Linked DNA regions of Homo sapiens. The protein of the gene in region 1 interacts with the protein of each later gene in a biochemical or structural test. Each region holds a gene or a part of one and is shown on either strand. Other genes may lie near its edges.

Region 1 (7,040 bases):
TACAGTGGCTAAGGAAGCAAATAAGTTAGTGAAAACAGCTGGGTGTAAGAAGATCCGTTACAACGGTAGCTGATATTTACTGAGCACTTACTCTGTGCCAGGCATTGTTCTGAGTTTTTAAGATATATTTAATTTAATCATTCCTCATAACAAGTTTCTTTTAAAGTCAGTGCTATTACTATCTTCATTTTAAAGATGGAGAAACAGGAAACAGACATTCAGAAAGGTTAAGTAATTTTCCAAAGATCATGTATAAAAGTTAAGTGATAAGTCAGGATTCAAACCCAGGGAGTCTGGCTGTAACATCCACAGGAGCGCAGACACACCAACAAGTCACACTGCCTTCCTCTAGGAGAGAGAAGGGAGAGTGGTGGGGATTCTGGTAAACTAGAAAACATGAGTTCCAACTAAAAGGAGCAGCTCCTCCTCAGCTCTAGCTAACTGCTGCTCTGCAGGAATATAAGAATCTCTCTCTTTCTGTATTTCTCTCTTTCTTTCTTTTGAGATAGTCTCTCCCTCTGTCATCCAGGCTGGAGAGCAGTGGCACGATCATGGCTCACTATGACCTTGACCTCCCAGGCTCAAACGATCCTCCCACCTCAGCATCCTGAGTAGCTGGGACTACAGGCATATGCCACAATGCCTGGCTAATTAAAAAAGACAATTTTGTAGAGGCAGAGCCTCACTATGTTGCCCAGGCTGGTCTTGAACTTCTGGACTCAAGCTGTCCTCCTGCCTCGGCCTCCCAAGTGCTGGCATTATAGGCATGAGCCACTGGGCCTGGCCTGGATTTTCTTTTTAAAGAGACTAATATGAAATTTTAGGGGGAGAATCTCCTGATTATTCAATATTGCCAATAAAGTCAATTTTTTATTTCTTATTCATTTATTTATTTATTTATTTATTTTGAGATGGAGTTTTGCTCTGTTACCCAGGCTGGAGTGTAATGGTGTGATCTCGGTTCACTGCAACCTCTACCTCCCAGGTTCAAGTGATTCTGTGCTTCAGCCTCCCAAGTAGCTGGGATTACAGGTGCTCGCCACCATGCTAGGCTAATTTTTGTAGTTTTAGTAGAGATGGGGTTTCACCATGTTGGCCAGGCTGGTCTCAAACTCCTGACCTCAGGTGCTCTGCCCACCTTGGCCTCCCAAAGTGCTGGGATTACAGGTGTGAGCCACCACACTCGGCTTTTTATTTTTAATTTTTTAAAAAACTTTTATTTTTGCTTTAGGGGTACATGTGTGGGTTTGTTCCGTAGATAAACTGTGAGTCATGGGGGTCTGGTGTACCTATTATTTCATCACCCAGGTAATAAGCATAGTGACTCATAGGTAGTTTTTCGATCCCCACCTCCTCCCCGTCTCCACCCTCAAGTAGGTCCCAGTGTCTGGTGTTCTCTTCTTTGTGTTTAATTTTTAAAATAAACACTTGGGTGAACCCCCACACAAAGGTGTGGCTGGGTTCTGTCTAGGGGTTACCAGGTCTAGACTTCTGATTTGAGCCACTCAGTGCAGATTATTGCTGTCCTAATGATTGTCTCCTTAAAAAAATTAATTTTTGAAAACTGTCCTATTTCCTTCAAGGACCTTAGTTACTTTGTCAAGAACACCTTTTTCATAGCCAGTTCAAGTGACTCCTGCTTCATTCACAACCGCCCTGCTCTGTGCTTCTTCCTCACAGAGTGTCCCAAGGGCCCTGACATCCTGGTGGTCCTGCTCTCAGTGATGGGGGCCATTCTGCTCATTGGCCTTGCCGCCCTGCTCATCTGGAAACTCCTCATCACCATCCACGACCGAAAAGAATTCGCTAAATTTGAGGAAGAACGCGCCAGAGCAAAATGGGACACAGTAAGAGACGGGGCTGGGCGTTTTCTAAAGTCATTGGTCTGAGACTCTTAAGTGGAAGCAGCAGATGCTTTGGGTGGTCATGTTCAGCCAGTACCATCGTCTTTCCATTATCCTCTGTTCTGGAAACTGGGAGAGATGGTCTCACTATCCCCTTGTCCTTCAGCTTCCTTCAGCCTCTTAGAAATAGTGGCAGGATGTCATTCCATCTCATTCTCTTCTTTCTCCTCAAATAAATGGTTACTTCCAGGCTGGGCCTGGTGGCGCGTGCCTGTAATCCCAGCACTTTGAGAGGCCAAGGTGGGCAGATCACTTGAGCTCAAGAGTTCGAGACCAGCCTGGGCAACATGGTGAAACCCCGTCTCTATTAATAATATAAAAATTAGCCGGGTGTGGTGGTGCATGCCTGTAATCCCAGCTATTCGGGAGGCTGAAGCAGGAGGATTGCTTGAACCCAGTAGGTAGAGGTTGTAGTGAGCTGAGATTGCACCCTGCTCTGGGTGACAGAGCAGGACTCGGTCTCAAAAATAATAATAATAATAATAATAATAATAAAATAAAATAAAAGGTTACTTCCAAATCAGACTCTACTCTTTTATCCTGATTTATTCCAATTAAATAAGCATTTACTGAGAACTTTCTATATACTTAATCTTACTCTATTCTCTTTTGGCTCTTCTTTCACATTTCAACTTTTTTCCTCGACCCTCCAAATGGCTATTTGACTCCCCAAATGTCCAGAGTTAGGCTGCAAGTTTGTTCCCATTTGATGTTGACCCCAGAGCTTTATACTCAAGGGTCCCAAGAAACTGAGATGTTTCTGTTAGAACAGTGTGGAACATCCTGTACCTATGAGGCCCACAGGAATGTGTTTCTTTCTCTTTTTTTTTGGAGACAGAGTCTTGCTCTGTCACCCAGGCTTGAGTGTAGCGATCTTGGCTCACTGCAACCTTGGCCTCTCAGGTTCAAGTGATTCTCCTGCCTCAGCCTCCCAAGTAACTGGATTACAGGCGCCAGCCACTGTGCCCAGCTATTTTTTGTATTTTTAGTAGCGACGGGGTTTCACCATGTTGGCCAGGCTGGTCTCGAACTCCTGACCTCGTGATCACCCGCCTCGGCCTCCCAAAGTGCTAGGATTCCAGGCGTGAGCCACTGCGCCTGGCTAAGAATGTGTTTCTTGAAGCTACCATTATAGGATTTGTTACTTTCTGTTGGAAAATAGTTTGGGAAACCTAGTGAGGGTCTTACTTTTTCCTGATAACATGACAGTTTGTGGATAGTGCTTTCTCTTTCTCTCCCCTCCTCTCCCATTCCCTCCCCTCCCCTCCCCTCTCCTCCCCTCCCCTTCCTTTTACGCTTCCTCCCCTCCCCTTCCCTTCCTCCCCTCCTCTCCTTTTCTTTCCCTTCCCTTCCCTCCTTCCTTCTTTTTTTGAGACAGGGTCTCGCTCTGTCACCCATGCTGGAGTGCAGTGGTGCCATCATGGCTCAATGCAGCCTCCATCTCCTGGGCTCAAGTGATCCTCCCACCTCACCCTCCCAAGTAGCCAGGACTACAGGCACACATCACCGAGCCAGCTAATTTTTGTATTTTTTTCCCTTGTAGAGACAGGGTCTCACTCTGTTACCCAGGCTGGTCTAGAACTCCTGGGCTCAAGTGATCTTCCTACCTTGGCCCCTAAAAGTGCTGGGATTATAGGCATAAACCACCATGCCTGGCCATGGTTAGTGCTTGGCCAGATTAGATGAAAACAAATTAATAATTATTTGAGCAAAAGCTTTCCTCTGTGTTCTGAATTGCACCTGATACATTTCTGTCCCTTGTCCACATCTCCTATCACTGTCACAGGGAATGGAAAATAGGAGAAGGGCAAAAGAGACGGGGACACAGGGGTGAAATAGGAGAGGTTCTATCCCCGAATGCTGTGGAATCACTGAAGAGTGATAGGCTGAATATAGCTCCTTAGAAATAGTGGCAGGGAACAGGTGTGGTGGCTCATGCCTGTAATTCCAGCACTTTGGGAGGCTGAGGCAGGTGGATCGCTTGAGCTCAGGAGTTTGAGACCAGCCTGGGCAACATGAAGAAACCCCATCTCTACAAAAAAATGCAAAAATTAGCCAGACATGGTGGTGTGTGCCTGTAGTCCCAGCTACTTGGGAGGCTGAGGTGGGAGGATGTCTTGAGTCAGGGGAGGTGGAGGTTTCAGTAAGCCGAGATTGTGCCACTGCACTCCAGCCTGGGCAACAAAATGAGACCCTGTCTGAAAAAAAAAAAAAAAAAAAGAAACGGTGGCAGGATGGCATTCTACCTCATCTCCTCCTGTTATTTCCTATCAATTCCCATGCCAAGAACTAAAGTGTGAGCAAAATGAACATTATTCTGTTTCATTGATGATGTATTCCAGAGAACGGTGCCTTGGGAAAACTTCTGAGATGAATTTTAAACATTCAGGGTAGGGAAGGACTTAAGGAAGTCACTGTAAGATGCTATTCTGTTTCCTCCACAGGCCAACAACCCACTGTATAAAGAGGCCACGTCTACCTTCACCAATATCACGTACCGGGGCACTTAATGATAAGCAGTCATCCTCAGATCATTATCAGCCTGTGCCACGATTGCAGGAGTCCCTGCCATCATGTTTACAGAGGACAGTATTTGTGGGGAGGGATTTGGGGCTCAGAGTGGGGTAGGTTGGGAGAATGTCAGTATGTGGAAGTGTGGGTCTGTGTGTGTGTATGTGGGGGTCTGTGTGTTTATGTGTGTGTGTTGTGTGTGGGAGTGTGTAATTTAAAATTGTGATGTGTCCTGATAAGCTGAGCTCCTTAGCCTTTGTCCCAGAATGCCTCCTGCAGGGATTCTTCCTGCTTAGCTTGAGGGTGACTATGGAGCTGAGCAGGTGTTCTTCATTACCTCAGTGAGAAGCCAGCTTTCCTCATCAGGCCATTGTCCCTGAAGAGAAGGGCAGGGCTGAGGCCTCTCATTCCAGAGGAAGGGACACCAAGCCTTGGCTCTACCCTGAGTTCATAAATTTATGGTTCTCAGGCCTGACTCTCAGCAGCTATGGTAGGAACTGCTGGGCTTGGCAGCCCGGGTCATCTGTACCTCTGCCTCCTTTCCCCTCCCTCAGGCCGAAGGAGGAGTCAGGGAGAGCTGAACTATTAGAGCTGCCTGTGCCTTTTGCCATCCCCTCAACCCAGCTATGGTTCTCTCGCAAGGGAAGTCCTTGCAAGCTAATTCTTTGACCTGTTGGGAGTGAGGATGTCTGGGCCACTCAGGGGTCATTCATGGCCTGGGGGATGTACCAGCATCTCCCAGTTCATAATCACAACCCTTCAGATTTGCCTTATTGGCAGCTCTACTCTGGAGGTTTGTTTAGAAGAAGTGTGTCACCCTTAGGCCAGCACCATCTCTTTACCTCCTAATTCCACACCCTCACTGCTGTAGACATTTGCTATGAGCTGGGGATGTCTCTCATGACCAAATGCTTTTCCTCAAAGGGAGAGAGTGCTATTGTAGAGCCAGAGGTCTGGCCCTATGCTTCCGGCCTCCTGTCCCTCATCCATAGCACCTCCACATACCTGGCCCTGTGCCTTGGTGTGCTGTATCCATCCATGGGGCTGATTGTATTTACCTTCTACCTCTTGGCTGCCTTGTGAAGGAATTATTCCCATGAGTTGGCTGGGAATAAGTGCCAGGATGGAATGATGGGTCAGTTGTATCAGCACGTGTGGCCTGTTCTTCTATGGGTTGGACAACCTCATTTTAACTCAGTCTTTAATCTGAGAGGCCACAGTGCAATTTTATTTTATTTTTCTCATGATGAGGTTTTCTTAACTTAAAAGAACATGTATATAAACATGCTTGCATTATATTTGTAAATTTATGTGATGGCAAAGAAGGAGAGCATAGGAAACCACACAGACTTGGGCAGGGTACAGACACTCCCACTTGGCATCATTCACAGCAAGTCACTGGCCAGTGGCTGGATCTGTGAGGGGCTCTCTCATGATAGAAGGCTATGGGGATAGATGTGTGGACACATTGGACCTTTCCTGAGGAAGAGGGACTGTTCTTTTGTCCCAGAAAAGCAGTGGCTCCATTGGTGTTGACATACATCCAACATTAAAAGCCACCCCCAAATGCCCAAGAAAAAAAGAAAGACTTATCAACATTTGTTCCATGAGCAGAAAACTGGAGCTCTGGCCTCAGTGTTACAGCTAAATAATCTTTAATTAAGGCAAGTCACTTTCTTCTTCTTAAAGCTGTTTTCTAGTTTGAGAAATGATGGGATTTTAGCAGCCAGTCTTGAAGGTCTCTTTCAGTATCAACATTCTAAGATGCTGGGACTTACTGTGTCATCAAATGTGCGGTTAAGATTCTCTGGGATATTGATACTGTTTGTGTTTTTAGTTGGGAGATCTGAGAGACCTGGCTTTGGCAAGAGCAGATGTCATTCCATATCACCTTTCTCAATGAAAGTCTCATTCTATCCTCTCTCCAAACCCGTTTTCCAACATTTGTTAATAGTTACGTCTCTCCTGATGTAGCACTTAAGCTTCATTTAGTTATTATTTCTTTCTTCACTTTGCACACATTTGCATCCACATATTAGGGAAGAGGAATCCATAAGTAGCTGAAATATCTATTCTGTATTATTGTGTTAACATTGAGAATAAGCCTTGGAATTAGATATGGGGCAATGACTGAGCCCTGTCTCACCCATGGATTACTCCTTACTGTAGGGAATGGCAGTATGGTAGAGGGATAAATAGGGGGCGGGGAGGGATAGTCATGGATCCAAGAAGTCCTTAGAAATAGTGGCAGGGAACAGGTGTGGAAGCTCATGCCTGTAATTATAACCTTCAGCTACTAAGACAGGTGTGGTGGCTCACGCCTGTGATTATAATCTTCAGTTACTAAGACAGAGTCCATGAGAGTGTTAATGGGACATTTTCTTTAGATAAGATGTTTTATATGAAGAAACTGTATCAAAGGGGGAAGAAAATGTATTTAACAGGTGAATCAAATCAGGAATCTTGTCTGAGCTACTGGAATGAAGTTCACAGGTCTTGAAGACCAATATTATTTGTCAATATGTGGGGATAACCTGTAGCTGCATTCATGAGGTAGCAAATAGCAGTTTTGGCCTGTGGGGTGAACAGCTAAACAGTGTTCTGGCATCAGATAACACGGCACAA
Region 2 (6,026 bases), on another chromosome or scaffold:
TAGTCTACTGTGAAATCGATGGGTCTGGAAATGGATGGACTGTGTTTCAGAAGGTAATTTTTTCCCCACCATGTGTATTTAATAAATTCCTACATTGTTTCTGCCATATGGCAGATACTTTTCTAAGCACCTTGTGAACCGTAGCTCATTTAATCCTTGCAATAGCCCTAAGAGGAAGGTACTTCTGTTACTCCTATTTACAGAAAAGGAAACTGAGGCACACAAGGTTAAATAACTTGCCCAAGACCACATAACTAATAAGCAACAGAGTCAGCATTTGAACCTAGGCAGTATAGTTTCAGAGTTTGTGACTTGACTCTATATTGTACTGGCACTGACTTTGTAGATTCATGGTGGCACATAATCATAGTACCACAGTGACAAATAAAAAGAAGGAAACTCTTTTGTCAGGTAGGTCAAGACCTGAGGTTTCCCATCACAAGATGAGGAAGCCCAACACCACCCCCCACCACCCCACCACCATCACCACCCTTTCACACACCAGAGGATACACTTGGGCTGCTCCAAGACAAGGAACCTGTGTTGCATCTGCCACTTGCTGATACCCACTAGGAATCTTGGCTCCTTTACTTTCTGTTTACCTCCCACCACTGTTATAACTGTTTCTACAGGGGGCGCTCAGAGGGAATGAATGGTGGAAGCATTAGTTGCCAGACACCGATTGAGCAATGGGTTCCATCATAAGTGTAAGAATCAGTAATATCCAGCTAGAGTTCTGAAGTCGTCTAGGTGTCTTTTTAATATTACCACTCATTTAGAATTTATGATGTGCCAGAAACCCTCTTAAGTATTTCTCTTATATTCTCTCTCATGATCCTTGCAGCAACCCTAAGAAGTAACCATCATTTTTCCTATTTGATACATGAGGAAACTGAGGTAGCTTGGCCAAGATCACTTAGTTGGGAGTTGATAGAACCAGTGCTCTGTATTTTTGACAAAATGTTGACAGCATTCTCTTTACATGCATTGATAGTCTATTTTCTCCTTTTGCTCTTGCAAATGTGTAATTAGAGACTTGATGGCAGTGTAGATTTCAAGAAAAACTGGATTCAATATAAAGAAGGATTTGGACATCTGTCTCCTACTGGCACAACAGAATTTTGGCTGGGAAATGAGAAGATTCATTTGATAAGCACACAGTCTGCCATCCCATATGCATTAAGAGTGGAACTGGAAGACTGGAATGGCAGAACCAGGTACTGTTTTGAAATGACTTCCAACTTTTTATTGTAAAGATTGCCTGGAATGTGCACTTTCCAACTATCAATAGACAATGGCAAATGCAGCCTGACAAATGCAAACAGCACATCCAGCCACCATTTTCTCCAGGAGTCTGTTTGGTTCTTGGGCAATCCAAAAAGGTAAATTCTATTCAGGATGAATCTAAGTGTATTGGTACAATCTAATTACCCTGGAACCATTCAGAGTAATAGCTAATTACTGAACTTTTAATCAGTCCCAGGAATTGAGCATAAAATTATAATTTTATCTAGTCTAAATTACTATTTCATGAAGCAGGTATTATTATTAATCCCATTTTATAGATTAACTTGCTCAAAGTCACATTGCTGATAAGTGGTAGAGGTAGAATTCAGACTCAAGTAGTTTAACTTTAGAGCCTGTCCTCTTAACAACTATCCTGGTTGAAAAGCAAATACAGCCTCTTCAGACTTCTCAGTGCCTTGATGGCCATTTATTCTGTCAAATCATGAGCTACCCTAAAAGTAAACCAGCTAGCTCTTTTGATGATCTAGAGGCTTCTTTTTGCTTGAGATATTTGAAGGTTTTAAGCATTGTTACCTAATTAAAATGCAGAAAAATATCCAACCCTCTTGTTATGTATAAGGAATAGTGAAATATATTGTCTTCAAACACATGGACTTTTTTTTATTGCTTGGTTGGTTTTTAATCCAGAAAGTGCTATAGTCAGTAGACCTTCTTCTAGGAAAGGACCTTCCATTTCCCAGCCACTGGAGATTAGAAAATAAGCTAAATATTTTCTGGAAATTTCTGTTCATTCATTAAGGCCCATCCTTTCCCCCACTCTATAGAAGTGTTGTCCACTTGCACAATTTTTTCCAGGAAAGAATCTCTCTAACTCCTTCAGCTCACATGCTTTGGACCACACAGGGAAGACTTTGATTGTGTAATGCCCTCAGAAGCTCTCCTTCTTGCCACTACCACACTGATTTGAGGAAGAAAATCCCTTTAGCACCTAACCCTTCAGGTGCTATGAGTGGCTAATGGAACTGTACCTCCTTCAAGTTTTGTGCAATAATTAAGGGTCACTCACTGTCAGATACTTTCTGTGATCTATGATAATGTGTGTGCAACACATAACATTTCAATAAAAGTAGAAAATATGAAATTAGAGTCATCTACACATCTGGATTTGATCTTAGAATGAAACAAGCAAAAAAGCATCCAAGTGAGTGCAATTATTAGTTTTCAGAGATGCTTCAAAGGCTTCTAGGCCCATCCCGGGAAGTGTTAATGAGCTGTGGACTGGTTCACATATCTATTGCCTCTTGCCAGATTTGCAAAAAACTTCACTCAATGAGCAAATTTCAGCCTTAAGAAACAAAGTCAAAAATTCCAAGGAAGCATCCTACGAAAGAGGGAACTTCTGAGATCCCTGAGGAGGGTCAGCATGTGATGGTTGTATTTCCTTCTTCTCAGTACTGCAGACTATGCCATGTTCAAGGTGGGACCTGAAGCTGACAAGTACCGCCTAACATATGCCTACTTCGCTGGTGGGGATGCTGGAGATGCCTTTGATGGCTTTGATTTTGGCGATGATCCTAGTGACAAGTTTTTCACATCCCATAATGGCATGCAGTTCAGTACCTGGGACAATGACAATGATAAGTTTGAAGGCAACTGTGCTGAACAGGATGGATCTGGTTGGTGGATGAACAAGTGTCACGCTGGCCATCTCAATGGAGTTTATTACCAAGGTATGTTTTCCTTTCTTAGATTCCAAGTTAATGTATAGTGTATACTATTTTCATAAAAAATAATAAATAGATATGAAGAAATGAAGAATAATTTATAAAGATAGTAGGGATTTTATCATGTTCTTTATTTCAACTAAGTTCTTTGAAACTGGAAGTGGATAATACCAAGTTCATGCCTAAAATTAGCCCTTCTAAAGAAATCCACCTGCTGCAAAATATCCAGTAGTTTGGCATTATATGTGAAACTATCACCATCATAGCTGGCACTGTGGGTTGTGGGATCTCCTTTAGACATACAACATAAATGATCTGGATGGATTAACATTACTACATGGATGCTTGTTGACACATTAACCTGGCTTCCCATGAGCTTTGTGTCAGATACACGCAGTGAACAGGTGTTTGGAGGAACAGAATAAAGAGAAGGCAAGCACTGGTAAGGGCAGGGGTTTGTGAAAGCTTGAGAGAAGAGACCAGTCTGAGGACAGTAGACACTTATTTTAGGATGGGGGTTGGATGAGGAGGCTATAGTTTGCTATAAGCTTGGAATGGTTTGGAACACTGGTTTCACTCACCTACCCAGCAGTTATGTGTGGGGAAGCCTTACCGATGCTAAAGGATCCATGTTACAATAATGGCATTATTTGGAAATCCCAGTGGTATTCCATGAATAAAACCACTATGAAGATAATCCCACTCAACAGACTCTCCGTTGGAGAAGGACAGCAACACCACCCTGGGAAAGCCAAACAGTCAGACCAGACCTGTTTAGCATCAGTAGGACTTCCCTACCATATCTGCTGGGTAGATGAGTGAAACCAGTGTTCCAAACCACTCCGGGCTTGTAGCAAACCATAGTCTCCTCATCTACCAAGATGAGCAACCTTACCTCCTGATGTCCTAGCCAATCACCAACTAGGAAACTTTGCACAGTTTATTTAAAGTAACAGTTTGATTTTCACAATATTTTTAAATTGGAGAAACATAACTTATCTTTGCACTCACAAACCACATAATGAGAAGAAACTCTAAGGGAAAATGCTTGATCTGTGTGACCCGGGGCGCCATGCCAGAGCTGTAGTTCATGCCAGTGTTGTGCTCTGACAAGCCTTTTACAGAATTACATGAGATCTGCTTCCCTAGGACAAGGAGAAGGCAAATCAACAGAGGCTGCACTTTAAAATGGAGACATAAAATAACATGCCAGAACCATTTCCTAAAGCTCCTCAATCAACCAACAAAATTGTGCTTTCAAATAACCTGAGTTGACCTCATCAGGAATTTTGTGGCTCCTTCTCTTCTAACCTGCCTGAAGAAAGATGGTCCACAGCAGCTGAGTCCGGGATGGATAAGCTTAGGGACAGAGGCCAATTAGGGAACTTTGGGTTTCTAGCCCTACTAGTAGTGAATAAATTTAAAGTGTGGATGTGACTATGAGTCACAGCACAGATGTTGTTTAATAATATGTTTATTTTATAAATTGATATTTTAGGAATCTTTGGAGATATTTTCAGTTAGCAGATAATACTATAAATTTTATGTAACTGGCAATGCACTTCGTAATAGACAGCTCTTCATAGACTTGCAGAGGTAAAAAGATTCCAGAATAATGATATGTACATCTACGACTTGTTTTAGGTGGCACTTACTCAAAAGCATCTACTCCTAATGGTTATGATAATGGCATTATTTGGGCCACTTGGAAAACCCGGTGGTATTCCATGAAGAAAACCACTATGAAGATAATCCCATTCAACAGACTCACAATTGGAGAAGGACAGCAACACCACCTGGGGGGAGCCAAACAGGTCAGACCAGAGCACCCTGCGGAAACAGAATATGACTCACTTTACCCTGAGGATGATTTGTAGAAAATTAACTGCTAACTTCTATTGACCCACAAAGTTTCAGAAATTCTCTGAAAGTTTCTTCCTTTTTTCTCTTACTATATTTATTGATTTCAAGTCTTCTATTAAGGACATTTAGCCTTCAATGGAAATTAAAACTCATTTAGGACTGTATTTCCAAATTACTGATATCAGAGTTATTTAAAAATTGTTTATTTGAGGAGATAACATTTCAACTTTGTTCCTAAATATATAATAATAAAATGATTGACTTTATTTGCATTTTTATGACCACTTGTCATTTATTTTGTCTTCGTAAATTATTTTCATTATATCAAATATTTTAGTATGTACTTAATAAAATAGGAGAACATTTTAGAGTTTCAAATTCCCAGGTATTTTCCTTGTTTATTACCCCTAAATCATTCCTATTTAATTCTTCTTTTTAAATGGAGAAAATTATGTCTTTTTAATATGGTTTTTGTTTTGTTATATATTCACAGGCTGGAGACGTTTAAAAGACCGTTTCAAAAGAGATTTACTTTTTTAAAGGACTTTATCTGAACAGAGAGATATAATATTTTTCCTATTGGACAATGGACTTGCAAAGCTTCACTTCATTTTAAGAGCAAAAGACCCCATGTTGAAAACTCCATAACAGTTTTATGCTGATGATAATTTATCTACATGCATTTCAATAAACCTTTTGTTTCCTAAGACTAGATACATGGTACCTTTATTGACCATTAAAAACCACCACTTTTTGCCAATTTACCAATTACAATTGGGCAACCATCAGTAGTAATTGAGTCCTCATTTTATGCTAAATGTTATGCCTAACTCTTTGGGAGTTACAAAGGAAATAGCAATTATGGCTTTTGCCCTCTAGGAGATACAGGACAAATACAGGAAAATACAGCAACCCAAACTGACAATACTCTATACAAGAACATAATCACTAAGCAGGAGTCACAGCCACACAACCAAGATGCATAGTATCCAAAGTGCAGCTGGAGACAGGAAAGCTGCTTGGGGAGTCTCCCAGCAGAACCTTTTAGCTCCAAACACCTGTGGTGGGACCTGGTCACTCTGAAAGGACTGCAACTCAGAGCAGAGAGCTTTAGGGAGCTATTTGCCCTATCTCTCACTAGTCATGAGGTGAGCTGAATGGAACCATCTCTTCCTTCTGATTCAGGGATAT

Evidence for each region.
Region 2: the proteins of ITGB3 (region 1) and FGG interact in a test that uses a peptide from one of them, tested with the Homo sapiens proteins (one study listed by BioGRID).

What each region holds. Positions count from the first base shown.
Region 1 is NC_000017.11:47,305,791-47,312,830, forward strand, and holds part of ITGB3 (integrin beta-3 precursor), read left to right. Parts: intron 1-1,680; coding exon 1,681-1,847; intron 1,848-4,348; coding exon 4,349-4,414; 3' UTR 4,415-7,040. UniProt on the Homo sapiens protein: Integrin alpha-V/beta-3 (ITGAV:ITGB3) is a receptor for cytotactin, fibronectin, laminin, matrix metalloproteinase-2, osteopontin, osteomodulin, prothrombin, thrombospondin, vitronectin and von Willebrand factor.
Region 2 is NC_000004.12:154,603,657-154,609,682, reverse strand, and holds the end of FGG (fibrinogen gamma chain isoform gamma-B precursor), read left to right. Parts: coding exon 1-53; intron 54-1,032; coding exon 1,033-1,217; intron 1,218-2,700; coding exon 2,701-2,978; intron 2,979-4,616; coding exon 4,617-4,849; 3' UTR 4,850-5,328; coding exon of another isoform or gene 5,329-5,343; 3' UTR 5,344-5,512; downstream 5,513-6,026. UniProt on the Homo sapiens protein: Together with fibrinogen alpha (FGA) and fibrinogen beta (FGB), polymerizes to form an insoluble fibrin matrix. Has a major function in hemostasis as one of the primary components of blood clots.